4 linked regions of the Homo sapiens genome follow. The protein of the gene in region 3 interacts with the protein of the main gene of each other region in a biochemical or structural test. Each region holds a gene or a part of one and is shown on either strand. Other genes may lie near its edges.

Region 1 (8,984 bases), on a different chromosome or scaffold from region 3:
ACAATGCAAATCCATCAGCATTACTAAAAGAAAAAAAAACAGGAAAACCTGACTTGTGAGTCAGCCCACAGAACAAATTCCATTTAAGAACTCCCTGATCATCCTGGGCTTCAAGGTTAGATACATAAGAGTAAGAAATCAGGCTTCCCTACTTACTCGTTTTATGTGTGACCTTGGACAAGTTAATTTTTCAGAGCTTTAACAATAAAACACATTAAGGGTCCCAAATAGAGCTTGACATATAAGGGATACTCAGGTTATGCTAGCCCCAGCCCCATCTGGAGATAGAATCGGGCAGTCAAGAGCACAGGGATGAAGCCAGGTCCACCTGTATCCCAATCTTGATTTTGCAGCTCACGTGAAACACTGGGCAAGTGATGGCCTTATCGTTCTCATAAAGCTGAGACAAAAAAATTAAAGCATTTAGACAGCACACAGCAATTGTCAACTAACGGCAATTATGTTTTAAATGTTAAGAAGAATATAGTATTATCACTATCTGTTAATGTTTTCCAAAGTACAGTCATGGAACTATTGATATCAGAATGACCTGGGTGGGATGTCTACTGAGGGGGAAGAAAAGGATATCATGTCCCATCTCAACCTATTTAAAAAAGCTCTCCAAAAATGGTACAGGGTAATGGTCATTTCTGAATCAAACTTCCTTGAGATATCTATGAAAATTTCAGAATTACTGACCCAGCAGGTCTTGTGCTGTGTCATAGTAAATTAAGACTTGTTTTCCAATCCTTATTCTTTACTATGCCAGAATTGCCCAGTATCTGGGGTTCTTTTCTAATGAGACACATTTCTGGACATAGATGTCAAACTGATAGGCTCATACTTTTTAGGATCACTCCTGTTTTTTCCCCCAATGGTACTATTTTGACTTTTTTTTTTTTCTTCTAACCAGGGGTCGGCAAGCTATGGCCTTGATCTGCAGCTAATTTTGTACAACCGCAACCCTCAGAAGGTGTATGTGTTTAAAAAAAAAAACTGAAGAAGAAGTGATCAAGACCACATGTTGCCCTAAGTCTAAAACACTTACTAACCGGCCCTTTACAAGAAACCTTGCCAATCACTTTGTAGCCTATAATTAAATGTTTTTCAACTGGAGGTCTCAATACAATTTAAAATAGGGAGAAATAACTGATTCAAATAGGAAATATCAAAAAGCACTGCATCTGACAGAAGGAAGTACCTGTACTATTGCCAAAGTTTCTGTTATACAGATGTATGTGCCTCCTGGATAATGATCAAATTGTATTTGGTTGCAGTCAAAAAGTTTTAAAGTCCTTGGGGGTGAGGCTAGGGAGTAAATAGTGCAATTGTTTAACAAGTTTAACTTGTTTAAGTCACACTGAGCAATTTTTACAGCAAAGGTGCCTTGGAGAATATAAAGCCATATAAAATGACCCCTGCTGTTCAGAAGTTAACGGCTTATTTCTTCACTACAAAATGAAAATGGAATCTTTTCTGTGCGCAATATATTGTTATAAGGAGAAAATGCAATCATCAATGCAAAGTACTTCAACAAATGCATTATACAAACAAAATATTTTGATTATATTAACAACATATCATACAGAATATATATATATATATGGTCTTTACCAAGCCCCTTAGTTCCTAGTTTTCTCCAACCTGGGAAAAGAGTCCTTTTTTTCCCCTTTGTGTGTGTGCACGAACATGTCAGGAGCATAAAAGAAGTATTAGATATCTCTGCCCTTTCTGTCATCCGTTACTGGCTGCTGCTTCTTACCTATTTAAAACATGCATTCTTTTCTCTTTCTCGTTTCTGGTAGGAAAAGCTTTTGATTCGATTCTTGTGCAAAAAGAATTATTAAGACTATGTTTATCCTCTTGGGGAAACATTTAGAAGTCCAAAATTAAAATTGTAAGTAACAAGCTTCACTTTTATCTTCACAGCGCACTAATTTCCAGGGTTTCTGGGATTCTTTTGGAGAAACTAAAAATACACTAATTTTATAATCCATTTCAACATGTAATCCTGCAAAGAAAAGAAACATCTTCCTAGGAGCATACACAAGGAAATGAAATGACACTTTTAAATGTTTTCATTTTATGAAATACACTGCGGACACACAAACCACAAGCAGTGTAAATAAATAAAAGCTGGTGCAATGCTGCATGCATGTTTGCCTTACACCACAAAGAGAAAACACTTGCACACTGCACTCCATGGTATTTTAGCTTGGGTTGCCATAAAAATGAGATTTGGGCATGTTGTGTAATACAAGGGGCTGTAAATGAGGGTGTGTGTCTGGGTGTGTTAGGGAAAGAGGGTTGTAAGCAGAAGGGGTGGGACTTGCCAGGAGCAGCTATTTGAGAAAATTCCTTTTTCTTTCCCATTCATTCTTTCTAGCTCTACTGTCTGGCACAATCCTTACAATTACTCACTGGCTTTTCATTCTAAAGACAACCAACAAGCTTTCAGAACTTCCTACAGTGTTTTTCTCATACACTTTTAAAAAAATAAAGCACCAAATCATTCAATATGTCTTTTATATAAAAAGCAAACCATTAACCCATTTCCTCGTTCCAAAGACCCCCGTGGGTTTCAGACTAAATAGAATCCTTTGTTACGTGTCCAAAAATAACACAACACGGTATTGGTAAATTGGAAAATAATAGATAACTCTTATTTCCAAGAATGTCAGAGCTACTGGCCATAAATTTTGTTCTGCCCCAGTGAGTCCAATTTCATGCTTCTTTTAGCGAATCTACCGTCCTAACAACAGTAAAGCCAATCATATTAAACACGGTTCTCCTTTTCTCTTTCGACATTCCATTAATAAATACAAGGGCTGAAAGAAGACGCCAAGCGGGCCAGTTTCTTTATGCACAATGGTATCCTCTAAGCGAAATACCTCCAACCACAGCGAAAGTTGTCTTTCTAGCAGATGCCCACCCCAACCGGCCCAGGCAGAGGGGGCAAAGGGTAAGAGGGAAGCGTAACATCCCAGCTCTCCCACCTCTAGAGGAAGGGAAGAGGGTATGACAGAGAGCGGAGTAGGAAGGTGGGCGAGTGGGAGAGACAGAAATGGATGCTGAGGGGGTGGGCGAGATGGGAAGGTAGGGAAAGGTGGAGAATGCGGGGAGAGGTGGGTGCGCAAAGCGGCAAGATCCGAGAGCACAGCGGGGAGCGGTGGGGGGCAGCGAGGGGATCCGGGGGCGCGAAGTGGGGGGTCTGGTCCTCACCATTGAACGCCCCTGCGTCCGCGGGCGCCGCCTCCTCCTCCTCCCCGTCCTCGGAGTCGGACTGCATGGGCTCCTCGGCGAAGTTGACCCCCTTGCTGGGGGTGCCGCCCCCGGCAGCGGCGCCCAGGTCCCCCCAGGTCCTGCCCTCATGGCCGAAGCGCGCGGTGCCTTTGCGCTCGTTCTCCTGCTGCAGGCGGGTGAAGTGCTGCAGCGCGAACTCCAGCAGGTCCGCGGGCTGGTGCCTCAGCACCTCCACCGTGAAGCCCTGCAGCAGCTCCGTCAGTCCCGCCGGGATCTCGATGCTCATCCTGCCTCCGGGGCGGCAGGCGCCTGGGCGCCGCCCTCGCCCCCTCCCCGGCACGGCCTAGGGCCCCGCGGCTGCCGAGCGAGCGCCTACGGCGCTGGCGCGCTACCGGCTGCGAGCGCGGCGCACTGGGCCCCGGCGGCCCGGCTGGCCCGGCCCGCGGCTCCCGGCGCGCGTCTGCTCCGTGTGGTGGCGGCGGCTGAGCGAGCGCGGCCCCGGGAGGGCTGGCAGCATCTCCTGCTCCTCCCGCTCCAGCCGCGGCCGCGCCTCTCCCCCGCCCGGGCGCCCCGCCCCCGCCCCGCCGCGGTGCGCGGGAGGGGGCGCAGGAGAGCGCGCCCACGTGACCCCCGGAAACCATGGCAACCTCCGCTGGCTGGCGCCGCGCACCCGCCTGTCAGACCACCGCAGGGCTGCGCGCCCGGGCCGGGAGAGGCGGAGGGAGGCCCAGCGAGGCCGCCTTCGTGTCCACCTGTCCGCGCGTCCAGGAGCGGGCTGGCCACTCGCCCCGCTTCCCAGGCGTCATTCGCCATGGTGAACCCCCGCAGAGGTGGTGCCAGGAGATTTGTCTTGAAACTTCAGCCTCCACCTTAGTAGTGGCATTTTATTTTCCTTCTAGAATCTAGTTGCATGATAAGTGTTGCTAATGTCCTTTGTTTAAAGTCTTATGGTGGTACTGGTTCTCTTTTGGACAAAGAAATGCTACCCCATCTTTGTGACGTCTTTCTTTTTCTTCCCCACATTTTATCCAGCCTTTCCCGATCCATCCTGTTTATTATGTTTCGTCTTACTGATGCTATTCCGTTGTGCACTCCACGCATTTACTATTTATTGAGACAAAGGCACCATTTATTGAGAGGCACCTATCAAAGTTAGTTGATCTCTTTTAAATAGGATAGTGCAGGATGAGGCGCTTATTATTTTGAAACTTTCCTTTATGCTTTGAATGATTTTTGACTTGTATGTCCAAAAATTGAAATACTTCAGTATAAAGAAAAATAGAATTACTAATGTGTGCTTTTAAAGTAGAAGGCTTTGACTTTGAAATGAGGCTTACTTTGCAAATGTTTACAATTTTGAAGTAGAGAAAATTGTCTTTTGTCAATTAAATTCTATTTAAGTACGCATACTTCATTTTCTACAATTATCATATCATTGTAAATAAAATATTTCAAGAGCAAGCTCACTTGGTTATTCTGATTTATCTTCCCACCCACGGAAGAGTAAACACATGACTGGGGAAACTCCAAGTCTAGAAATCAGAGATGTAACGAACTAGTCCCTCTTGTAAAAATGGATCTTGATGTTAACCCTTTGTTAATGATGCATCCTGTATTGACTCCATGAGCCAATGTATTTCTCTATTTTCATTTCTTAACAACTTTATAGTAATAATGTTACGTTGCTTTAAATATACAGTAGTTAAGTGCTTCTAATTGTGTCGAGCATTTTAAGAATTAAACTTTTGGCCGGGCGCAGTGGCTCACTCATGCCTGTAATCCCAACACTTTGAGAGGCCGAGGTGGGCGGATCACCTGAGGTCAGGAGTTCAAGACCAGCCTGGCCAACATGGTGAAACCCCATCTCTACTAAAAATACAAAAATTAGCGGGCATGGTGGCAGGCACCTGTAATCCCAGCTACTCAGGAGGCTTAGGCAGAAGAATCGCTTGAATCCAGGAGGCGGAGGTTGCAGTCAACCGAGATCGTGCAGTGCCGTTGCACTCCAGGCTGGGGGACAAGAGTGAGACTTCGTCTCAAAAAAAAAAAAAAAGAATTAAACTTTTATAAAATATGGTGAGCCTCACATGTCACCGGTTGGAGCACAATGTTAGTACTACTCTCTACCGTGTAAGCATTATTATTTTTACGGATCTGGTAATCTAAGATGCATGTGTATCACCTGTCTAAATTTGTGATAATATTTGTATTAATTATGATAAACACTGCTCACATGTGGCAGAAAATGCGAAATACAATAGCTTAAGATTTATTTCTCTGGAATCTAAATGTGGGCAGTTCAGAGTTGGTATTGAGAGGTGATAGCGTGCTGGCAGTCCTCACAGCCCGCACTCGCTCTTGGCGCCTCCTCTACCTGGGCTCCCACTTTGGCAGCGCTTGAGGAGCCCTTCAGCCTGCCGCTGCACTGTGGGAGCCCCTTTCTGGGCTGGCCAAGGCCTGAGCCAGCTCCCTCAGCTTGCGGGGAGGTGTGGAGGGAGAGGCGCGGACGGGAACTGGGGCTGCGCGTGGTGCTTGTGGGCCAGCGCGAGTTCCGGGTGGGCGTGGGCTCGGCAGACCCCGCACTCGGAGCGGCCGGCCGGACCCACCGGCCCCGGGCAGTCAGGGGCTTAGCACCTGGGCTAGCAGCTGCTGTGCTCAATTTCTCGCAGGCCTTAGCTGCCTTCCCGCGGGGCAGGGCTCGGGACCTGCAGCCCGCCATGCCTGAGCCTCCCCCCCACTCCGTGGGCTCCTGTGCGGCCCGAGCCTCCCCGACGACCGCCGCCCCCTGCTTCACGGCGCCCAGTCCCATCGACCACCCAAGGGCTGAGGAGCGCAGGCGCACAGCGCGGGACTGGCAGGCAGCTCCACCTGCAGCCCCAGTGCGGGATCCACTGGGTGAAGCCAGCTGGGCTCCTGAGTCTGGTGGGGACGTGGAGAACCTTTGTGTCTAGCTAAGGGATTGTAAATACACCAATCGGCACTATGTATCTAGCTCAAGGTTTGTAAACACACCAATCAGCACCCTGTGTCTAGCTCAGGGTTTGTGAATGCACTAATCGCCACTCTGTATCTAGCTATTCTGGTGGGGACGTGGAGATCCTTTGTGTGGACCCTCTGTATCTAGCTAATCTGGTGGGACATGGAGAACCTTTGTGTCTAGCTCAGGGATTGTAAACACACCAATCAGTGCCCTGTCAAAACAGACCACTGGGCTCTACCAATCAGCAGGATGTGTGTGGGGCCAGATAAGAGAATAAAAGGAGGCTGCCTGAGCCAGTGGTGGCAACCAGCTCGGGTCCCCTTCCACAGTGTGGAAGCTTTGTTCTTTTGCTCTTTGCAATAAATCTTGCTACTGCTCACTCTTTGCGTCCACACTGCCTTTATGAGCTGTAACACTCACCATGAAGGTCTGCAGCTTCACTCCTGAAGCCAGCGAGACCACGAGCCCACCGGGAGGAACTCCAGATGCGCCGCCTTAAGAGCTGTAACACTCACCGCGAAGGTCCGCAGCTTCACTCCTGAGCCAGTGAGACCACGAACCCACCAGAAGGAAGAAACTCCGAACACATCCGAACATCAGAAGGAACAAACTCTGGACACGCCACTTTTAAGAACCGTAACACTCACCGCGAGGGTCTGCGGCTTCATTCTTGAAGTCAGTGAGACCAAGAACCCACCAATTCCGGACACAGTGTGGTACTCCATGATCATCAGGGACCCAGGCTCCCTCCAGCTCATTGCTCTATGATCCTGTCTGTGGTCCAAAATGGCTGCTCCAGGGCCAGTCATATTTTAGCTAAGAGGAAAGTGAAAAAGAGAAGGGAAGCTCCCCTCCCCTCCCTTCCTTCTAGGAAGTTAAACACAATTCCTCTTCTATCCTCTTGGCTAGAACTTAGTCAACATGGCCACACCTTTGGTGTGGCAAATTGCATTTTCCAAAGACGGCTACAACAATATCTCCTACAGTGTGGCGTGGCCACTACTCACTAATGAATTGAAGTCTTATTTCCCCTCCCCTTGAATCTGAATGTGCTTGTGATTTCTTTGACCAATAGAACATTGTAAAAGTCAAGTCAGCATGATAGAAGAAGCCAGCCCTGTACTGGATGCCCTGGCTGAAGCCTTGTTCCACAGAATCTGTGAGCATAATAAAAAGGTTGTTGTAGGCCTCTAGGTTTTGAGATAATCTGTTACACAGCAATAGCAACTGAAACCAATGGCTATTAGGAAAGTTTGGAAATGTAATATTTATTTTGAGCAGTCACGTGCCAAGTAAACATTTGGGAATTAAAAAGAACCAAGTCTGGACGGGCACAGTGGCTCACTCCTGTAATCCCAACACTTTGGAGGGCCAAAGAGGGTGGATCGCTTGAGCCCAGGGGTTCGAGACCAGCCTGGGCAACATAGGGAGACTCCATCTCTATAAAAAAATACAAAAATTGGCCAGGCTTGGTGGTATACATGTGGTCGTAACTGTTCGGGAGGCTGAGGTGGGATAAGCGCCTGAGCCCAGGGAGGTCAAGGCTGCAGTGAGCTGTGGTTGTGCCACTGTACTCCGGCCTGGGTGATAGAGTAAGACCTTGTCTCAAAAAAAAAAAAAAAAAAAAAAAGTCTGGAGATAATTATCAATCTCTGCCACAATGTCTAATACCTTTTCCCTAGGAATGACAAAATTAAAAAAAGCACTACTTTTCCAAACATTATTAAGAGCCATATCTTGTTAATGCCATTTTGTGTTTCCAAATTCATTTATTTCTTCTTGTAGATTTATTATATGAAGCATGGTAGATAGCTCTCTGTCATCAACCACAATGCCAAGGTTGTGTGGTTCTCATTTCTTTAAGAATATAGCAATGATTTCAAGCATGAAATGCGTAATTGGATTAGATGACCTATATAGTCTTTTTCATCCTGAGAGATTTACAATAGTATAATACTAAAACAAGACTTATTGGACTTGAAACATCTTTGCAAACAGCTCTTTGGTAATTTTCATTTGCATCAGTTCTTAAATCAATAACCATGACCTGAAAAAGTAAAGCTTGGTCCTGATATTCCCATTACATTAGCATTGTTCTCAGAACAAATGTTCACTTCTCAAATCATATTCTGGCTTTTATTCACTACCACATAACCTTTTTGGTAATATTTTATGATTTCTTTTGCTTTCATTTTCAGAATATTTCATTTTGAGCCTTTTGAACAGTGGCTTATGGGAACTATGTATCTCATATTCCTTAAAAGAGCATCACTGATACTGATTCTTTGGTTGTGGATTTGCAAAGCAATTTGCACCAGTTTCTCAGAGAATCAGACTGGAAGCAATGGCAAATGAACTCTGAGAGCTCAGCATTGAAATGAAAAGAGTGCTATCAAATTTGTTTTCACACCAGGAAATTAAACAGACCCATCAACTTGCTTATATGTAACTGCCAAAAAAACAAAGTCAATGGCTTGGGCAAGCAGTACAGAATAATAACTATGACCAATCAATCATGCAGCATTTCCTGTCAATAGTTAAGGTGTTTCCTGATCAAGTCTCTGGAGTGCAAGAAATATATACCCACTCAAGGAAAAAAAAGGAGGCAATTGAGAGGATACAGGGCCTGTTCTTGCCCAAGGCTGACTGTGATCATCAGCCTCAGTTTTACGTACCTTTAGCATTTCAACACTGACTACAGTTTTGGTGTCTCTGATTCATATTCTCAAGAGAGAATCAGGTTAGTTGGTCTTGACCATCT
Region 2 (8,287 bases), on a different chromosome or scaffold from region 3:
ATATATACATTTTGTCAGAAAGTATAATAATGGGCTGGGCGCAGTGGCTCACGCCTGTAATCCCAGAACTTTGGGAGGCCGAGGCAGACGGATCGCTTGAGGTCAGGAGTTCAAGACCAGCCTGGCCAATATGGTGAAACCACATCTCTACTAAAAATACAAAAATTAGCCAGGCATGGTGGTGGGCGCCTGTAATCCCAGCTTCTTGGGACGCTGAGACAGGAGAATCACTTGAACCTGGGAGGCAGAGGTTGCAGTGAGCCGAGATCATGCCACTGCACTCCAGCCTGGGTAACAGAGCGAGACCCTGCCTCGAAAAAAACAAAAACAAAACAATATTTTAGGCTGTGTGTGGTGGTTCATGCCTGTAATCCCTGCACTTTGGGAGGCCAAGGCAGGAGGATCGCTTGAGGCTAGGAATTCAAGACCAGCCTGGGCAACACAATGAGACCTCAACTCTATTTAAAACACAAAAACAGGCTGGACGCAGTGGCTCACACCTATAATCCCAGCACTTTGGGAGGCTGAGGCGGGTGGATCACAAGGTCAGGAGATCGAGACCATCCTGGCTAACACAATGAAACCCCGTCTCTACTAAAAATACAAAAAATTAGCTGGGCATGGCGGCACGCGCCTGCAGTCCCAGCTACTAGGGAGGCTGAGACAGGAGAATCGCTTGAACCTGGGAGGTGGAGGTTGCAGTGAGCCAAGATCACACCACTGCACTCTAGCCTGGGAGACAGAGCGAGACTCCATCTCAAAAAAAAAAACAAACAAAAAAACCCCACAAAAACAGAAAACCCCAATATTTTATTTATTTATTTAAAAAAAACCCATACAGGCTGGGAACAGTGGCTCACGACTGTATTCCCAGCACTTTGGGAGGCTGAGGTGGGGAGGTGGGTGGATTGTTTGAGCCCAGAAGTTTGAGAACAGCCTGGGCAACATGGCGAAACCCATCTGTACAAAAAATACAAAAATTAGCCAGGCGTGGTGGCGTGCACTTGTGGTCCCAGTTACTGGGGAGGCAGAGGTGGGAGGATTGCTTGAGCCCTGGGAGGCGAAGTTGCAGTGAGGTGTGAGAGCACCACTGCACTCCAGCCTGGCCAACAGAGTGAGACCGTCTCAAAAGATAGATAGATAGATAGATAGATAGATAGATAGATAGATAGATAGATATAGACAGACAGAGAGACAGACAGACAGACACACACACACACATACATAGATACATAGATAGATAAAATAAAAGGCCTGGCACAGTGGCTCACACCTATAATCCCAGCATTTTGGGAGGCCAAAGTGGGTGGATCACTTGAGGTCAGGAGTTCGAGACCAGCCTGGCCAACATGGTGAAATCTCGTGTCTACTACAAATACAAAAATTAGCTGGGCATGGTGGTGTACACCTATAGTCCCAGCTACTTGGGAGGCTGAGGCATGAGAATTACTTGAACCCTGGAGGCAGAGGATGCAGTGAGCCGAGATCACACCACTATACTCCAGCCTGGGCAACAGAGACTCCGTCTCAAAATAAATAAATAAATAAATATTAAAAAATACACAGAGGGCAGCAAAGTTAACTCCCAATATTTTACAAATCCACCTACAGTGTAACAAAGATTAGTACAATTGCAATAGCAAACAATATTTCGGCTGGGCGCATGGCTCACGCCTGTAATCCCAGCACTTTGGGAGGCTGAGGTGGGTGGATCACTTGAGGTCAGGAGTTCGAAACCAGCCTAGCCAACATGGTGAATTCCCATCTCTACCAAAAATATAAAAAATTAGCCAGTACTGTTGGCACATGCCTATAATCCCAGCTATGCAGGAGGCTGAGGCAGGAGAATTGCTTGAATCCTGGAGGCGGAGGTTGCAGTGAGCCGAGATAATGCCACTGGACTCCAGCCTGGATGACAGAGCAAGAGTCCATCTCAAAAACAACAACAACAACAACAGATTTCTAACTAAAGAGAAAACAACAAATATCTTTCTTTTTTTTTTTCTTTTTTGAGACAGAGTCTCGCTCTGCCACCCAGGCTGGAGTGCAGTGGCACAATCTCGGCTCACTGCAAGCTCCGCCTCCCTGGTTCACGCCATTCTCCTGCTTCAGCCTCCTGAGTAGCTGGGGCTACAGGCGCCTGCCACCGCGCCCGGCTAATTTTTTGTATTTTTAGTAGAGACGGGGTTTCACCGTGTTAGCCAGGATGGTCTCAATCTCCTGACCTCATGATCCGCCCGCCTTGGCCTCCCAAAGTGCTGGTATTACAGGCGTGAGCCACTGTGCCCGACCACAACAAATATCTCTTACAGCGACTTTTTTTTTTTTTGAGATGGAGTTTCGTTCTTGTTGACCAGGTTGGAGTGCAATGGCGCAATCTTGCCTCACCGCAACCTCCGTCTCCCAGGTTCAAGTGATTCTCCTGCCTTGGCTTCCAGAGTAGCTAGGATTATAGGCATGCGCCACCATGCCCAGCTAATTTTGTATTTTTTAGTAGAGACAGGGTTTCTCCATGTTTGTCAGGCTGGTCTCCAACTCCTGACCTCAGGTGATCTGCCCACCTTGGCCTCCGAAGTGCTGGGATTACAGGCACGAGCCACTACGCCCGGCAAGCGACTTTTTTTTTTTGAGACAGAGTCTCACTCTGTCACTCAGCAGGCTGGAGTGTAGTGGCATGATCACAGCTCACTGCAGCCTTGACCTCTTAGGCCCAGGTGATCCTCCCAACTCAGCGTCCCAAGTAGCTGGGACTACAGGCATGTGCCGCCACATCAGCTAATTTCTTATTTTTCATAGAGACAGGGTTTCACCACGTTGCCCATGCTGGTCTTGAATTCCTAGGCTCATGTGATTTGCCCACCGTGGCCTCCCAAAGTACTGGGATTACATCATGAGTCACCACACCCAGCTGGTTCTACCCCTTTTTACGCATGCTTTAACACTTCCCAAAACTCTCTTTTCATGTGGTGCAAGGCCAGTTCCCATGGCTGTGGAGAATATAAAAAAAGCACCAGACATCAACATAGCCTTTGATGAGCATCCAATCGAGCAGTGAAGAGGAAATTCCCACAGGCAGCAAGTGGTCAGAGGCAAGCAAACACCCCTGAAGTTCAAAAGAGAAAAGGAGTGCTACTCTCTCCTGTGACTGCAGGAATTTCCCAGGAAACCTTCTATTGACTTTCAATAAAGCAAGAGAAAGCAAAAGAGACTACGTATAGGGGCCGTGATGGCAGCTGCCCATTATAAAAGCAGGAATGTAGGATCCAACTTGAAAAACTCAGTGACGACACCAGATCCTCCCTACTTCAACCTCAGAAGGCATTTCCAAGGCCAAAGAAGAAGTCAGGCTGGAGAGGACCTTCTGTGAGTTACTTTCCTAGAGGTGGTATTGAAGCTTTGGAAGAGTCTGGGCTTGCAAAGCAAGTCAATTAACAGGAGAAAAGTAGAGGCCAAAAGGATATCTTGATAGGTCACTGACCTAAGAAAGCAAGGAGAAGAGGAAATGACTGCCAAAGGCAAGGAAATAGAAAGAATAGGAGTCTTAGGAAAGGAAGTCTCAGGAAAAGAAGGGTGGTGAGTAGCACCATGGCCATGGGGAGCTTGTGCCATCATTCTGTGAACACCCACCTTGTACCAGGCACTAAGGGAGTCACTTCTCTTATGCCCATGTATTTAATCCTCATACCCCAGCCACAAAGCAGGTGGTTTTACAGCTCAATATACAGTTTTCAATTTTCATTGAGACTTGGTCTTAGAGATTATCCAAGAATGGGTTATTTGGCCGGGTGCGGTGGCTCTTGCCTGTAATCCCAGCACTTTGGGAGGCCGAGGTGGGCAGATCACCTGAGGTCAGGAGTTCGAGACCAGCCTGGCCAACATGGTGAAACTCCATTTCTACTAAAAATACAAAAATTGGCTGGGCGTGGTGGCACATGTGCACACGTCTGTAATCCCAGCTACTCAGGAGGCCGAGGTAGGAGAATCGCTTGAACCCAGGAGGCAGAGGTTGCAGTGAGCCAAGATCATCTCAAAAAAGAAAAAAAAGAAAGAATGTGTTATTTGGCTGGGCACAGTGGCTCATGCCTGTAATTCCAGCACTTTGGGAGGCCAAGGCAGGAGGACTGCTTGAGCCCAGAAGTTCAAGACCAGCCTGAGCAACATAGTGAGACTCTGTCTCAACAACAACAACAACAAAAAGACAGGTGTGGTGGTGCACACCTGTAGTCCCAGCTACTTGGGAGGCTGAGGTGGGAGGATTGCTTGAGCTCAGGAGGTCAAGGCTGCAGTTAGCCCCTGCTCACACCAAAAACAATGTTATTTAATTTCTAAGTGTCTGGAGATCTGTTATTGATTTTTAGTTTCTTTCTTTCAATTGTAGTTAGAGAACACATTCTGATTTCATTTTTTCTTTAAATTTTCATTATTTCTTAAAATTTTAAATAGAGATGTGGTCTCACTATGCTGCCCAGGTAGGTCTCAAATTCCTGGACTCAATCCTCCCACCTCAACCTCCCAAAGTGCTGGGATAACAGGCTTGAGCCACTGTGGTTGGCCTGATTTCAAATCTTTTACATTTTTTAAGTTTTATTTTATATTCCAGGATATGGCCTATTTGGGTGAATGTTCCATGGGCTTGAAAAAAATGTTCATTCTGTTGTTGCTGTGTGCAGTGTTCTATAAATTTCAGATAGCTTTTGTTAATTAATGGTGTTAAGTTCTTCTATATCCTAGCTGACACTAGCTGATTTTCTGTTTAGCTGTTCGTTCTTTTGTTTTGTTTTGTTTTTGAGATGGAGTTTTGCTTTTGTTGAATATACCTGTTAGAAGATCTGGATTTCAGGCTTTCCAGCACCCCATCTGGGATATATGGGAACCTGGGAACTCACTGTCATGTCTTTCCTCAAGCCCCAATATCCCTAGATAGTCTGCCTTCTTCTTTCCACCTTTCAGAGTCTTCCTATGTTTGCTCTATTATGTCCATAGTTGTTTGTGTGTGTGTTTAAGTTTTTAAGTGAGAACACTAGCATGGAATAGGGCTATTCCATCTTGGTCTGAACCAGTAGTTAGCACCAAGGCTTATTATTTGATTTTGTATTTTTTGAGATGGAGTCTTGCTCAGTCGCCCAGGCTAGAGTGCAGTGGCGTGATCTTGGCTCACTGCAACCTCCGCCTCCTGGGACTACAGGCGCCCATCACCATGACTGGCCAATTTTCATATTTTTAGTAGAGACACGGTTTTACCATGTTGCTCAGGCTGGTCTCGAACTCCTGACCTCAAGTGATCTTCCCGCCTTGGCCTCCCCAAGTGCTGGGATTACAGGTGTGAGTCACCGTGCCTGGCCCCCATTATTTATTATTCCCCTATACAAATCTATTCTTGAGTTTTTCAATCATTGAGTCCCCAAGTGTGTGACCTATCCTTAAGTCACTGTATCTCTTTCAGGAGCACTCTTAATTTAACATCAGGATGTCACAATAAAGTGCTTTTTTTTTTGAGACGGAGTCTCGCTGTGTCGCCCAGGCTGGAGTACAGTGGCGCGATCTCGGCTCACTGCAAGCTCCACCTCCCGAGTTCACGCCATTCTCCTGTCTCAGCCTCCCAACTAGCTGGGACTACACATGCCCACCACCACACCTGGCTATTTTTTTTGTATTTTTTAGTAGAGATGGGGTTTCACCGTGTTAGCCAGGATGGCTGTAAGATATAGTGTAAATCAACAGCCCAAGGACAGAGACACAGAAAGGGAATTAATACTGTGCCTTGCAAGGGGAACGATTTCTCTCACTCACCAGTCCCCAAAGGGAGCCTTCTGAGGTAGCAACAATGGTAGCAGCTCTCGGGGTGTTGTACATCAGAGCTAGTTCTCCAAAACTGCCACGGTTGTCATATTGACCAACAGAGCGGGTTTGATTATCTTTTGTTACTAAAATGTCATAAGTTCCCCTAGAAGAATGACAAAGAATAATTTAATTAGTTACTTCTGATAATAAATGTTAAGAACTGGCAGGTACATATAATAGAAAATGTTGTTTTAAGAGATTTCCAATGGAACTTTGCTAGTATATAAAAAAAACATATTTTTGTATTTTGACTTTGTACTGTGTCCTATAACCTTGCTAAACTCACTTATTAATTCTAGTAGCCTTTTTGTGGCATTCTTGGAATTTTCTTTTCTTTTTTTTTTTTTTTTTTTTTTGAGACGGAGTCTCGCTCTGTCACCCAGGCTGGAGTGCAGGGGCGGTATCTCAGCTCACTGCAAGCTCCACCTCCTGGGCTCACGCCATTCTCCTGCCTCAGCCTCCCGAGTAGCTGGGACTACAGGCACGCGCCACCAGGCCCAGATAATTTTTTTGTATTTTTAGACAGGGTTTCACCATGTTAGCAGGATGGTCTCGATCTCCTGGCTTCGTGATCCGCCCGCCTCAGCCTCCTAAAGTGCTGGGATTACAGGTGTGAGCCACCACACCCGGCTAGAATTTTCTACATAGAGGATCATGTCACCTGAAACAAAGTTTTAATACTTCCTTTCCAATCTATATGCCCCTTCCTTTTTTTCCCCCCATCTTTAACTTAAACATATATATATATACACACACACACATATATACATACACATAAATATATATATACACATATATACATTTTTTGACATATATATTTTTTTGAGACAGGGTCTTGCTCTGTCACCCAGGCTGGAGTGCAGAGGCACAATCATGGCTCATTGCAGCCTCCACCTCCTGGCCCCAAGCAATCCTCTCACCTCAGCCCCCTAGCAATCCTCTCACCTCAGCCCCGAGTAGCTGTGACCACAGACGTGTGCCACCACACCTGGCTAATATTTTATTTTTGTAGAGATGGGGTCTCACTATGTTGCCCAAGCTGGTCTGGAACTCCTGGGCTCAAGCAATCCTCCTGTCTCAGCCTCCCAAAGTACTGGGATTAAAGGCATGAGCCACCATGCCCGGCCTAATTTTTTTTCTTTTATTAATATATAATATTTTACATAATTTATGGCGTACATGTGAGTGTTTGTTGCATGCATAGAATGGGTAATGATTAAGTCAGGGTAACTGGGGTATCCATCACCTTGGATATATGTCCTTTCTATGTGTCAGTATCATTTCATGTCCTCTCTTCTATTAATAGTTACTTTGAAATATGCTAAATATTGTCACCCAAGTATAGTCACCTTATCATGCTATAAAACATTAGAACTTGCCAGGTGCAGTGGCTCACACCTGTAATCTCAGCACTTTAGGAAGCTAAACTGGGAGGGTTGCTTGAGCCCAGGAGTTTGAGACAATCCTGGGCAACGTATGGAGACTTCTCTCCACAAAAAGGAAAAAAAAAAGACATTAAAATTTATTTCTTCTATCTAACTGTGTGTTTGTACCCATTAGCCAACTTTTCTTCATCCACCCACCACCCTTCTCAGTTTCTGGTATATATCATTCTATTCTCTATGTCTACGATATCAATGTTCTTTAGCATTCACATGTGAGCAAGAACATGTGGTATTTGTCTTCCTGTGCCTATCTTATTTACCTTAATATAGCAACCTCCATGTGGCTACAAATGACATGACTTCTTTCTTTTTTATGGTCAAATGGTATTTCATTGTGTACTATGCCACACTTTCTTTCTTTCTTCCTTTTTTCCTTGCCTCCCTCCCTCCCTCTCTTCCTTTCTTTGCCTTATTGCATTGACTATAACCTCCAGTACAATATTAAGTGGAAGTGGTGAAAGCAAACATCCTTGCCTTATTCTGAGTTGTAAGAAAAAACAATTTTTCACCATTAAATATGATGTTAGCTGTAGGTTTTTAATAAATGCCTTTAGTCTAGTTAGGGAAAGTTATTTTTGTTGCTAGTTTACTGAGCATTTTCATCACAAAAAGATGTTGAATTTTGTCAAATGCTTTGCTGTAGGTATTGATATGAATGCATGGGTTTTCTTTCATAGTCTGTTAAAACAAAGATTAAAACAAAGCAGGTCGGGCACGGTGGCTCAAGCCTATAATCCCAGCGCTTTGGGAGGCCAAGGTGGGTGGATCACCTGAGGTCAGGAGTTCGAGACTAGCCTGGCCAATCTGGTGAAACCCCGTCTCTACTAAAAATACAAAAATTAGCTGGGCGGGTAGCGGGTGCCTGTAATTCCAGCTACTCGGGAGGCTGAGGCAGGAGAATCACTTGAAACCTGGAGGCAGAGGTTGCAGTGAGCCGAGATCATGTCATTGCACTCCAGCCTGGGCGACAGAACGAGGCTCTGTCTCAAAACAAACAAACA
Region 3 (7,897 bases):
TAAAAGATTCTACACCAGACCAAAACATACAGACGGGCAGAATTCAGTACACAGAAGTCTGGTTTTAATCCCGTGCTTTAACAAATTCATTTAGGTGTCTGTTTAAAAGGGGGTAGGGGTGCAGAGGGATGAGTTAAACTCAAAATTGGGGCTTCAACCCCCTCTTGAAACTGTTTTTCACTCTCTCCAGTCTAAAGTATTACCCTCCTTGACCAAAAGTTAAAATGAGAGGTGACTATAAAATTACAAAGGATAGAGAAAAAAGTGCAAAATATACTCTTTATTGTTCTTGCTGTAAACTCAATGACGCAAAAACACTGATTTTTACTCTTTGTATTATAGGAACAACAGTACATTCATCCTTAGATAAATGACCTCTCCATCTCACACTTTAAAAAATCTGAGGTAATTCAAGCCCTGTCCCTCACCTTCCTCTCTGTCCTAGCTAAGATACAAATCACATATGATCCCTCTGTGTAAAACTGTCAAATGTCCTTTGCCACATTTCCCATTCTTTTTGAGCCATACTTCCTTTTTGGCATTATAATCTATGGAATCTTGCTTACTTCTTCTCAGCACTTTTGGTTTGCTTAGTAACTGGGGTGCACTTACAACCAAACCTTCTCATTGTTTGCTATTATTTCCTAGCATTTTAAAACATGAAAAAAATTTTAAAACAATTTCCTAATTTCTGGGCTTAAATTACATTAAGATAGGGCACAGTAAAACTATTTGTATGATATTACAGTTATGTACATATAATTATGTATTTGTCCAAACCTACAAATGCACAAGAGTGAACTCTAATGTCAACTATGGACTGTGGATGATAATGGTGTGTGTGTCAACGCAGGACCACAGATTGTAACAAATGTCCCACTCTGTTGTGGGGTGTTGACACCGAAGGAGGCTGGGCAAAGAGGGTATACGGGAGCTCTGTATTTTCTGCTCAATTTTGCTGTGCATCTAAATAAAAGTGCTCTAAAAATGGTCTATTTAAAAGGAAAAAAATTCTTAAGACAAAGTCAGATCCATTAGTAATTAAAAAAAAAAAAACCCAGCAGCTTTTAAGTTATCTTGTGTACATGGTTTAACAGAGGTATGGTCTTATTATGGAAAGAGTGTTCAAACCAGGCCAGAAGAATTTCATAGCCATGTTCATATTCAAGGCAACCATAATATTCTACTTTGCAAAAACAGGTTGGGCAACCAGCCTTTTAAGTCACTATGTCTGCATTTGGGGTATCTATAAGTAGGTAGAATCTAGTGTCCAATTGGAAATATTTCTAACTTCTCTTGTTCTCAAAACCATGATCTAGCACTTCAGTCCTCTTATGTGGTCTTCTGTCATAGCAGTCCCACTCAGTACAGAGCAGTTAATGAGATATTATAGAATGAAAACCAAGACCAGGTATTTCTTAAATTTATTGAAGAACTCTTAGCTGGGAGAAGAAAGATCACAGGCTTAAACAATTGTAAGATAAAAGAACAATTAATTGCAAATAATTACAAAAGTAATTTCTGAAATTTTTTGAGCCACTGCTGAAACAAAACTTTAGTGCATCTCAAAGTTCGTATTTTGTTAAGTGAACATATTAAATTACTGAAAAGCAAAAAAGAGTTACTGTTACACAGTACAAGATCTTAATATAGTAACTGAGCACAGCCAAATAAACAGCTATAATTATTCCAAGCTGCTTTTGCTATGTATCTGGTATATTAAACAAGAAAGTGGATTACTTTTAACACTGCACAAGTAACCAAAGGTAGCAAATCCAGCAATATTAAAACCGGATATTAAATAGTATTCAAACATTACAACAAAAACAAAATAAGAACTTCTAGAACTAGAACTCTACCCTATGAAAGGAATGTACACAGATGGTTAAAAAAAAACCAATAAATAAATAAAGTGACAAGAGTGACTAATTCTGTATCCACATCTTCAGAGCAGGAATACAGTAAATGAGTAAATGCTTAGAGGAGTCTTGCTGAAAATGAGAAAAAATGCATCTCACTTTAGTATAATTTTTCTAAATTCTCACTGAAGCTCTAATTCTCTTGTGCTGGTGACAGGTGGACAGGGTTTTTAAATGCAAAGTATTCTCCCTACACCCTGAGTATGGATGCATCAGTTGTTTAAAATTCTGTGGAAAGTTTCCTTAGAAAAACATAAAATTTAAAGTGATATACTGATGGGAAATTGAATATATTAATTGTGGAAGAATATCAGCTAACTAATTAACTAAGTAGACATTTAAATCTGGACTCTGTTGAAGAATCAAGGTTAAACTCTGCATTATGTGCACTAATGTCAGCCATCTAATATCAAAGTCAGATAAGTAAACTATCTTTCACTTTATACATAGTGCATTTAGTAAATAAATTCTCTTACCAGCAACATAAAGCCCTTGTTGGAGCAAAATTAAAGTATTAAGAATTGAATTAACTTACAACAAATATCTGAAGGGTAAGTGGAACATTTTTCAAAGTATAAAGATGTTATCACATATATTCACCATGAATCCTCTTAAAGGTTTTATAACACCATTAAATTATATCAAATATCCAACAGATATTGTCATTTTCTTCTGTGATTTATAAAGGAAACATTCCTTTTGTACAAATCAGAAGTATCTTAAAAATCAACCTTAACACCAAAATATACATGTAATTTTAACTTGGTTTAGGAAAACATGAAAGAACTGTCACATTTTGGTGTGAACAAGGTTCTGAAAACCCCCTATCAGAGGTCTCATTCACTTTTTTCCACATATCACTTGAAGGTTTTGAAACTGGTAAAAACAGAATTCAGCTCGATGTACATCAAAACTTTAACAGTTCTGAAAAAGACGTATTTCGTAAGGGCCAAAATGTACAGCACAGCAATATTACAATGTTACAGTATAAATATGTCAAGCCAATTTGTAATAAAATAAGACAGTTGTCTTCAAAAGAGCTGTTTGACTATAGAGCAACCAAATAGATCTAGAACATCTTTGGAAAAACCACAAAGTGCCTTTACAGAAAGTTAAGTTTAGACTACACTTAATTAAAAGATAATACTCTAAACTCAAAATTATTTTCTCTATATGAGGAATTTTGACACTTGTTTTCACACCTGCCAATATTCAATATTTTTAACTCACACTTCTTTTCATACATCTGCCAATATTTAATATTTTATTCTATGCCCCTGCACTGAATTGATGTAAGTGTGAAGTTCCACTATTATTATTACCACACATGCTAATACCTAATAACTGGTCTGTCATTATGTAGTGGTTAAATAAGCAAATGCTGAACTCAGCACAGCTCTAGCAAAATGCAAAGGAAATAAGAAAAGCCTCACCTCAGAATGATTACACCATAAACAGAAATAAACATTTTCAAACACAAAGTTTCACAAAATAATATATCATCACTTTAAAAGAAATTCAGAACTCTATTTTGCTGTTGATCAAACTTGTGCATACACTCAAGTTACTAAACACAATTTGATAGTTAGATACTTGTAAAAATGCATTCTAAACTTAATAATCAATTAATTCATAATTAACAAGAGCAAACATTCCTAGTCCTAACATTTAAAAAAACCCAGTCCAGTGCTGCCACATCTCAAGTTCTGAAAAGCTAAAGGCAGGAACAATTCTGGTTATACAATTCCTGCATTTCTCCACCTTAAAAAATACTTGAAGAAACTTTAGGAAACTTTATATTAAGGCTTGCTGTATTTCTGTATCTTAAATTGAGAAAAATCAAAACCTACGATGTAACCTCGAATTATTTAAATAGCTTTTGGCATTTTTCTTGAAAAGCAAATTTGAATCTTTCACTATAAAACATTTCTATACCACAATTACTAATTCACATTAATGTGTAAGTGCCCTCATTTCCTATTCCCTGGCAGGCGCTATGTCTTCTTTCTACGTTTTGTGCAGCTTTCAGAACAGTCAGTGCTCAGAAAAAATGAAAACGTAATGGAGCAAAATCAAAGTCCCCAAAAAAAGTGATTTATCCTAGATTACAAAATCCAGTAGTGGAAGAACCAACATTTACACACCCAAATACACACACACCCACACATACACAGGACACAGCGAGAGATGAGAGAGAGTGGGGGGTGGGGGAGGTGAGAGACAGTGGGAGGAGGGGGGAGGGGGAAGAGAGTGGGAGGAGGGGAGAGAGAGTTGCAGGGAGGGAAGAGAGAGACAAAAGCAAGACACAACCTTTGTCCTCTATTCATGTCAACTTGCAGTTTCTGGACACAAACTAGTAGGAAATGTAGAGCCCAGAAAGATCGTGTCAGAGAACTTGACGAGACAGTGTAGATATAGTTTATCTGGGTGGGGCGGGGTGGGGGGAAATCCCAATTTTTCTAAAACAAACAAACAAACAAACAAAAAAAACACCACATTCTTGGTAGAGGTTTTTTCAAAAATCCAACAATAAAAACTACTGGGCTTCTCTAAATGCATTTCCATATTAACATTAATTTTTAAAATTTCAACATGTTTTACAATTTAAGTTTTCACTTGTAAGATAAGTTGGGAACCCAAAATTGTCAAAAAAAATTTTAATTATTGTCAATAAAAATTCTTACTGCACAATCTTTATAGGCGTTTTATTTTAAAGCACCTTTTTAAATTTTAACAGTGGGTTTCTAAAAAGAAAACAGTAAAATAAAAGAGGGAACAAACTGGCAAGGTTAAAGTACTCCCTTACACACACACACACACACACACACACACACACACACACACACACCTTTCATGCCAGAATGACTGGCAGCATTGGCAAATAATGTCAATGAAAGGATGGGGGAAACTATCACTTATAGTGTTTATAGAAACCTAAAATACTAATGTTTCTGCTAAGAAATTAAATAGTTTGGGGAAATCAAAAAGCTACCAATAGCTGATCTATGAAATATGAAAATGAAACTGATTTTTAAAAACAGGAAAGGCCAAAAATCTACTAGAAATTTTTAAAAATCAGCCTCAATTTTATTTTCTGATGTCAGACTAGTTATTAATTAGATACCATTTGTTTGCAAAGGAGCAAAATTATAACTCTATCACTGGAACCTATCCTCAGCCACTTCAGTGCAGTTTCTAGCAGCACTATTTGGATACAAAAAGAATGTGGTCAGACAATGCCCCTGAAAACCCCCTGGTTAGACCTTCCTTCAAATACATGTTCTTAGGGTCTTGACACACTACACATGTGTATAGAAGAATAAATGAAGGTAGTATTTTGACAGATTACAAAAGTATGAACTATATACACCGAGTGATAACACAAAGCGCTCAGAAAGCTATATTTACTTGCCTCCCAACTGACTTACGATGTTAATATTCACTATTCAAATTTTATCCTAAACATCTTTATTGGCTTGTTCCCCTCCCCAAACAAATACTAAAATATACTGGTTTGGGGTTTGCTCTATGCATTTTCCAAGAGCCAATCAAACAGCGACTTGCATCTCTCCTCACTGGAAGCTTTTTCCATCACTTCATAGTATTGAAGCACAGCCTGCAGGAGGTCTCCCACTTTCCATCCTTTCTCTTGTAATTGTTTTGAAAGCTAAGAAAGAAAGATGTGTCAAACATTAACCAAAAACAATTTTATAACAAAGCTTTTATTTTTATTTTCAATATTAGCTGAAACTTAAGAATCCTGCTGTTTACAATTAAATACCGTTTCCTAGTTATAACAAGGTCTTCCCCTCTAAACCGCTACCCCTTTACCCAAATTAAACATTTTCCCTTCTTCCCCTTTATAAACACATCTCCTCCAGAGAATGACACTTTGGGATCGCTGGAGACAGAGCTCCACAAACCTCACCAAGCAAATAGTCTGCATGGACATGCAGAGGCTGAGTTTCTACAGGAAATTCTTCACCTAACTAAATACAACTGCCACACCCTCAATTAGGACATAAAATAATAAAGACAACGTCAAACTCAATAAAAGGATGTGGATTTTCCTTCCACAACATATAGTGTGGCATTTTTCTGGAATACACACTCTAGCCTCAATGGAAACATGGCTTTCTAAGTTAAAGAATGTTAATGTTTCAACAACAAAACAACAAATAAATAAATAAATAAATACAGGTTTAAATAAATCCTGTTGTCACCACTCACGACATGCTTTTGTTCATTTCTTTTTCTACTAAGTTCTGTAAAAGCTCTTAAGTTTTGAAAGATCTGTAAGTTAAATTCTGAAAAACTACTTTAATTTTGTGTAACATATATATGCTTAACCTTTTTAAAAACAGCTTTATTGAGATAAAACTCACATAACATACAATTCACCCAAAGTGTCCTAGTCAATGGTTTTTAGTATGTTCTCCAAGTTGAATGCAACCAACACCACAATTCGAATATTTCTACCACCCCAAAAGGAAAGTTCTGATAAAGAAAATTATGGAACAAAAACCTTAAGACTGTAAACTGAAAATCTTGACTAATAAGGTACTTGGCACATAGTAAGCATCTTGTTTAAACTTTTATCGGCTTTTAATTATGACAGCTGCTCATACAAATGAAACTGGATTATCAGAGAAACAGATATATTAATCATTAGGTACAATTACAAATCAATTAAATACAGAGAATAATTCAATTTTTTCATAGGAACACACACAATGCTTATTAATAGCATCTACCTTTGAGAGCTTAGTGTTATGCCAGGCATTAGACCAAGCATTTTTTTTAACATTATATTTAATCCTCATAAACCCCTGTAAGGTAGATTCTATATTCATTTGCATAGTGCAGTTAGGGGCAATGAGACAGACTGGTGAACCTGCCTCTGGTTATACTGCTAGAAAGTGGCAGAGCTGATGTCTGAACCCAAACTGTTGGACACTACAGCCTAAGAATTTAACCATCACCAGGCATCTTGTTAGACCAATCACATGACAAGAACATCATATACTGTTAAATGTATCCTCACACTCTGTAAGGTAGGTACTTACTAGCATAAACTCCTTATTTGCAGAGTCATGAAAATAAAGTTCTGCAACTTCAGCCTCAGAGGCAATGAGCCACTGAAGAATAATCCTTAGCTGGGGGTCTACCGTGCATGGCTCCATGTCAATATTCGTAATTAGCAGTGTCTTTCCATCTTGCCCCAAACCTAATATTTAAATGTAAACAATATAAAGTAAAACTCATCAATTTAACTCTCAATACTCTGGTTGTCAAGTAGATACAAATATTTTCTGGTTCTTAGGATTCTAATGAATGGTGAAAAAAATATCCATCTTTTTCTAACCACACCATAACCTCAACTAAAACTTCTAAAGGGCAAAATAATGTAAAACAAAGGAATAACTTTGATCATTTATTGATTGCAAAAATATAAAACATCATTTTAACATACTGAATTCAAGTTCTATAAATGCCATAATTTGATATAAATTATGACCAGTGGGTTAGAGAGAAAATAAAACTATAAAGCTATCATTACAATAAAAATAAAAATGAGGCTGGGCATGGTGGCTCAGGCCTGTAATCCCAGCACTCTGGGAGGCCGACGTGGGCAGATCGCTTGAGGCCAAGAGTTCGAGACCAGCCTGCCCAACATGGTGAAACCCCAGCGCTATTAAAAATACAAAATCCGGCCAGGCGTGGTGGCACATGCCTGTAGTCCCAGCTACTCAGGAGGCTGTGGCACAAGAATCGCTGGAACCCAGGAGGCAGAGGTTGCAGTGATCCGAGATTGCACCACCCAGCCTGGGCAACAGAGCAAGACTTTGTCCCAAAAAACAAACAAAACCCCACAAAAAAACAGAAATCTCAAATAAAGAAGAGCAGCAACATCTGTGCAGCACATATTCCATCCTAAGTATTGTTCTAAGCTCTTTATATGTACAAACTCCTTTAAT
Region 4 (5,914 bases), on a different chromosome or scaffold from region 3:
CTACCTAGCCCAGAACTTTGTCTAATTAAGTCTTGACATTGATGACAAATCTGTGGGAAGGGCCAGAGTGGCCACTCCCTTCTGGAGAAAGAGGATGTAAGGAGAAACATACGTATGATTATCCATGGCTTCCCAGCTCCTGACTCCTAACTTGTGGGCCTCATTATGCCATCTTCCACGGCAGCTTGTTTTTTCCTGGTAGGTTTCCCTTTATGTCCTTCAGCTCTCCTAAATCTGATGGTGGTGATGAGTGAAATATTCCTACACTTGAGAAATGTGTGACCATCCCAACACTTCTGTTTACTTCCTTTCACAAACTTCTCAATGACAGGGATCTAAAAGCTAATCTCTCCTTTCCTCACTACCTTCCTAGAACACGTTTCTAAATGACATCTACCGGCTGGGCACGGTGGCTCATGCCTGTTATCCCAGCACTTTGGGAGGCTGAGACAGGCGGATCACTTGAGGTCAGGAGTTCAAGACCAGCCTGGCCAAAAAAGTGAAACCCTGTCTCTACTAAAAATGCAAAAATTATCCGGGCGTGGTGTAGTCTCAGCTACTAAGGAGGCCGAGGCAGGAGAATCACTTGAACCCGAGAGGCGGAGGTTGCAGTGAGTCGAGGTTGCGCCACTGCACTCCAGCCTAGGCGACAGAGAAAGACTCTGTCTCAAAACAAAACAAAAAAAAACGAAATGACATCTACCATCACTGCTCTCCTGAAATATGATCCCGAAGGACTGTTTGGTCAGTACTTTTTGGAAAGACTTAGAAACTAAAAAGGCAGGGGCCGGGCGCGGAGGCTCACGCCTGTAATCCCAGCACTTTGGGAGGCTGAGGTGGGCGGATCACGAGGTCAGGAGATCGAGACCATTCTGGCTAACACGGTGAAACCCCGTCTCTACTAAAAATACAAAAAATTAGCCGGGCGTGGTGGCGGGCGCCTGTAGTCCCATCTACTCGGGAGGCTGAGGCAGGAGATGGCGTGAACCCGGGAGGCGGAGCTTGCAGTGAGCGGAGATCGCGCCACTGCACTCCAGCCTGGGCAATAGAGCGAGACTCCGTCTCAAAAAAAAAAAAAAAAAAGAAAAGAAACTAAAAAGGCAGTCTTTCAGGATTCTAAATTAAAAGGTCTTGCAGGACACTAACACAATATTTAACTCAATCCCAGAACCTATGCAAGACAGCAGCAAATCCCAAACAAATGCACTTCAGTGCCAGCAGGAGGCGCATCGCACAAGTAACTTCTGTTTCTGCTAATCCAATCCTCCCCTGCCGCCCCTACTGGTTAAATGTGTTTAACTGTTTTACCAATGTTGGAATTAGCCAACCCCACCACCACAGTAAATAAATAAGAGGACCACACTTTATCGAATATAAATTTGTTTTTATTGAAGCAGCAGTCACATGACCTTATATCTAGCCTTTAGATTAGGCCTGACAGAGTGAGCCAGCCCTAAAAAAATGATGTTTCTTTTTGCACTAAGAGACATAACATGTTTACATACATCATCCAGTATTGGAAATGAGCAGACTCAAACACAACATGTGTTGGTTACCTGGGAGGTACAGCCCCACTGTTCGTGGTGTCCATATATTTTACAGAGACCCCCAAAGACCATTACTAATAGGATGAAAGTTAAAAGAAAATACAGCCACACCAAATCATGAACACAGTAATCAAAGACAGCAGCTTATACACATTTAAAAACTGTCCCTTTCAGAGTTGTTTTCTTTCTTTTCTAAGCAGTGTCTGCAAAGCTTCCTCTACATCAAATCCAAAGGTTTCCAAGGTGGAAGCTGCACCTCTTGGGGCTACACAATGGAATAAAATCATTGGAAAGAACAAGAAGTGGTATTGATATCTTGTTCTGTATAACAAAGATTAATGTTTCCCTAATTAGAGGAATGGAAATGGTGATGTGACTACATATTGCAGCGGCAAAATAGTAGGGTGAAGGAAGAGGGTTGGGTACTGAAATAAAGACCACACACTTGTGAATTTTAATTTCATTTCCAGGCTAACCTACTTTTTATTTAATGCAAATTACAGTACCAGTTAACTATTTCCAAACCAAGTCACATAGAACAAAATGTATTTACAAGGGAATGGGGAAAGGGAAAAAAAACATTGAGCATACTTTTCACAAAAAAGTTTATATTTAAAATGAAAAAAAAATCAGTCACAGAGGCATTCAAGTAGTAATAATGTTATACAGATTTTGCTTTTCCTTTATATCAAGACAGATTTGCACAAGTGTTTGCAATAGTTTGTATACAACCCACAGTCCTTTATATATATATATATATATATATAATAAATTTTGTTTTTTAGGTTTGTTTTTAAGATGGAAGTGGTCACGCTAATTGGTATGTGTACAGGCCCAAGTGATCCATCGGCAACACATTTATAAATGCAAATTTTACAGGCAAGCAGATTTTCATACAACTATCTGTATCTGCCTGTAGACAGATATAGTTAAGGAAAAAAAAACTTAAAAATTAACACAAGGAAGTCTACTTTGTCAAGCTAACCCCTTATGTACTGGTTGTCATTTTGCTTTTATTGCAGAGGTGCAAAACGGAGCAACAAACTTGAATAAAACGGCATAACCCTTGTGAAAATAATCCAAACCCCAGGGATTACTTTCAAAGCCTCTCAAAGGTAGATCTCAGTCTGGGACTCTACTGTGCTTCTAGTTGTCTCTTTTATTTTCAGTGGCTCAGGTTTCTACCAGAAAAGACAGATTTTATTGTAAAGCATACCTACTTTTCCACACAGGGGAGAAAAGTGTTTGGCTCTGTGATTAGATGATCACTAACATGAACAGTAGGAATCAGATACAATTTCAGTTGAAAAGAAAGAAAACCCCCCAAATTCCTGGGGATCTGGCATTGGCCAAACTTCCTTTGGAAGATTCCAAAGTTAAATCCTTTAAAAAGGAAAGGGAAAAATAGATGAAATGCCAGTGTCTTCATATCCACAGGGATAGAGAATACTCCTCTCAGAAACCTTTGCATTGGTGCAGACAAGATGACTGGTTAGGCATACATTGTTAAAACATAAACCAAAAATGTGTCTAAAAATTAAGAGGACTTAAAAAAAATGACACAGCATGTCACTGGAAAGAAGGTGCAGTCTTCTGCCTTGCTGGAATGAACACACGATGTTTCAAAAATAGTAACCTTTGGTTTGGTAGTTTTTTCTTCTATTCAAGACATTTTATATGGACTACTTTGAGGCAAAACATTCTATTTTTCTTTCAAAAAAGGCCTTCGTGTTGGGCACACAGTAAGAATTAAACTGATTTTTTTTAAAAGAAATTAAAATGATATTTCATTGAGCAAGGGTAGAGATGGCGGGAGGGAGGAAATGGGCTAAGAGTTCCCTTGTTAAAACAACAGTCCTCTATTGGCACGGTGGCACTCCGTGCAGTAACTGCTAGTAATTGCACTATAGCATTTTAGACCACTGACGTATCAAAACCTGATACTATTAAGAAACTTCGATTTATAAAAAAACAATTCTCTGTCACTCTCTCATTTGGGAGGGAAGTAGATAAAAGAGGAGAGAGAGAGAGCATGGAAGGCTCCCAGAATCTGCTGTTTTTAAGACCCATGGTTAGGGCTTGTGGAAGAGACGAGCAAAATTTAATCTATTCGATATCCTCCAGCTCTAGGGCTCCCTGGTGCTACACTAAGTCCCTGAATGGACTAAGTATGAAATGAAACCGGTCTCACTGCTACCGAGGAGGAAAGACATTCAGAACCAAAACAAAGGCAGGGCTTCAACGAAATGAAATTACGAATATGATTTCCTCTTCCCACTCCTGAGTATGGTATCACTGAAACTTAACTGTGGAAGGGGCAAAGATACTGTTATGAGTGAGTTATTATTTCAAAGGGAAAGGGGGTGGACAGGGAGACATGGATAAAGGAAACCAATTAAAATTTAAAAAAGAACAAATTAAAAAAAAAAACACATGGAAGCGAAGGCACTCCAAACTATATAGATACACTATACATTGCTAGAGTTATTGTTACAATAATACAGGCCGGTACCTACTGTACAGAGTTAAAACTATATGGCTTTAAAAAGCTCGTCTACATTTTGTCTGATTATTAAACAGAATCACTGCCCTGAACAGTAACTTTTTGCTCATTAATAACAGTTCCTGGGTCCACATATTTACATACAAAACAATAAAACTTAAATTTAAAAACACAGAAAGAAAATATAATGTACAAGCTTGAATTTGGTGAGGAGCTTTTTATTATTATTATATACAAAAAGATATTCAGAGACCTGGATCTCACTTGTATAAAAGAGTTCTGTGATCCCACCATGATCCTTGAGAAAGAAAAATCACACATCTCAGCACACACACACACACACACACACGCACACATGCACACACAATGAAATGAGAGAAAAGCGTGACTTTTCTCTCTTCTTTTACCCCAGTTGTGGGGGGCAACCTGTTTCCTAAAATAAGCACTGATTTTTATGGACTCTGGGGAGTATACCACGTCCAGAGCAGTGTCTGCATCCAAACGCTTGCTGGGCAGTTGGATCTGAATGCAGGTCCATTTCTCTATCACAGACCTGCCTTTTCAGATTCTTTATAAATTCTGTCTGAAAATGGTCTATCAACGCCACTACCTTTAAGGAGTTATGCTGCCAAATACTTTGATTTCAGACTTCTTTCAAATCTTAGCTTTCAGAAGCACTTTATAAAACATAAAATTCAATTTGTTTGATTTGGTTTGACTGAGCATGTTTCCTTTCTCATAAACTCTGATATATCCAGAGGTTTGTGAAACCCCTTTTGTGGCCCAAGACCTCAGCTAAACAGCGAGTGAAAACCAAGATGGCTCACAGTTGTCTTTCTGGGTACTGGTTCACTTCAGCAGGCAGGACAACTCTCTTGGAGAGTCACACACACAGTTAAGGAGCAGGACAGGGTGCTAGGGCCTGCAGGAGGGCTGCCAACAGACTCCACTTCCGAACCCTCTGGAGGACGAGACCCATAAAGTGACCTAAGGTGGCAATGAGGAGGGTGAGGGCAAGTTACACACAACCATGGGCTCAGCTCTGCAGCCCTACAGTTACCAGCTAACCTTGGAAGGCATGTGGGGAAGGAGCGGGTAGGAGGGAAAGGCGGCCATCACTCAAGTGATCTTTAAATGTAAAGTACAACTGATTGTGCCTTAAAGATTCATAGGTCAAGTAATGGCCCATAAGCACCAAGGTGACTAAAGTTCATTTTAGAGTATATAAGGCCCACATAGATGCCAACCTTAAAAGTATAAAACAAACTAGTCATGAAAATCTATTTCCTCACGGCAAACATAGTCCTTCAATTCTCCTTGCTTTCCAAGGAATATTGCTTTTTCTTCAAAAAGAGAGACTGATTCTTAACATCGTTCACTGATACACAAAGAAAACAGACACAAAAACTCTTAACTGGGTGTGGGGGAAACATTCTTCTCATGCTTCAACCAGTCAATTTTGATACTGTAGACAAAAAAAAAGGCAGTATTGAATATATGTATATATAACATATATACACACATTTATATCATCAGCTTTCCTATAAAGTCAGCAGGTATAAGTGACTGTATCATTCTGATGTGTAGTTTTTAATATTTCTACCATCTGACATGCATCAATAAATAAATGTAAAAAGCATGAGGTTAAAAAACAAATTAAATACAGATTCTAGATTTGGATTTAAAATTAGAACTATGTGTAGAATGTGGCTATTTCTGCAAGCTCAATTTTCAATTAAAAAATATGAAAAATAAACCAGTAGATGACTGTTACAGTTCACATTATTTAACTACAATGTCCTCTCAAGTGTATCTTTCCAAGGGAAGTAACTTTAGAAAAAAATCTGGACAAACTTATTCACAG

Evidence for each region.
Region 1: the proteins of AKAP11 (region 3) and PRKAR2B interact in far-western blotting, tested with the Homo sapiens proteins (one study listed by BioGRID).
Region 2: the proteins of AKAP11 (region 3) and PRKAR2A form a complex in vitro, tested with the Homo sapiens proteins (2 studies listed by BioGRID, with this or other methods).
Region 4: the proteins of AKAP11 (region 3) and GSK3B form a complex in vitro, tested with the Homo sapiens proteins (one study listed by BioGRID).

What each region holds. Positions count from the first base shown.
Region 1 is NC_000007.14:107,039,453-107,048,436, reverse strand, and holds the start of PRKAR2B (cAMP-dependent protein kinase type II-beta regulatory subunit), read right to left. Parts: upstream 3,733-8,984; 5' UTR 3,530-3,732; coding exon 3,223-3,529; intron 1-3,222. UniProt on the Homo sapiens protein: Regulatory subunit of the cAMP-dependent protein kinases involved in cAMP signaling in cells. Type II regulatory chains mediate membrane association by binding to anchoring proteins, including the MAP2 kinase.
Region 2 is NC_000003.12:48,767,165-48,775,451, forward strand, and holds part of PRKAR2A (cAMP-dependent protein kinase type II-alpha regulatory subunit), read right to left. Parts: intron 5,945-8,287; coding exon 5,791-5,944; intron 1-5,790. UniProt on the Homo sapiens protein: Regulatory subunit of the cAMP-dependent protein kinases involved in cAMP signaling in cells. Type II regulatory chains mediate membrane association by binding to anchoring proteins, including the MAP2 kinase.
Region 3 is NC_000013.11:42,316,777-42,324,673, reverse strand, and holds the end of AKAP11 (A-kinase anchor protein 11), read right to left. Parts: intron 7,147-7,897; coding exon 6,986-7,146; intron 5,587-6,985; coding exon 5,446-5,586; 3' UTR 1,413-5,445; downstream 1-1,412. UniProt on the Homo sapiens protein: Binds to type II regulatory subunits of protein kinase A and anchors/targets them.
Region 4 is NC_000003.12:119,819,954-119,825,867, forward strand, and holds the end of GSK3B (glycogen synthase kinase-3 beta), read right to left. Parts: 3' UTR 1,368-5,914; downstream 1-1,367. UniProt on the Homo sapiens protein: Constitutively active protein kinase that acts as a negative regulator in the hormonal control of glucose homeostasis, Wnt signaling and regulation of transcription factors and microtubules, by phosphorylating and inactivating glycogen synthase (GYS1 or GYS2), EIF2B, CTNNB1/beta-catenin, APC, AXIN1, DPYSL2/CRMP2, JUN, NFATC1/NFATC, MAPT/TAU and MACF1.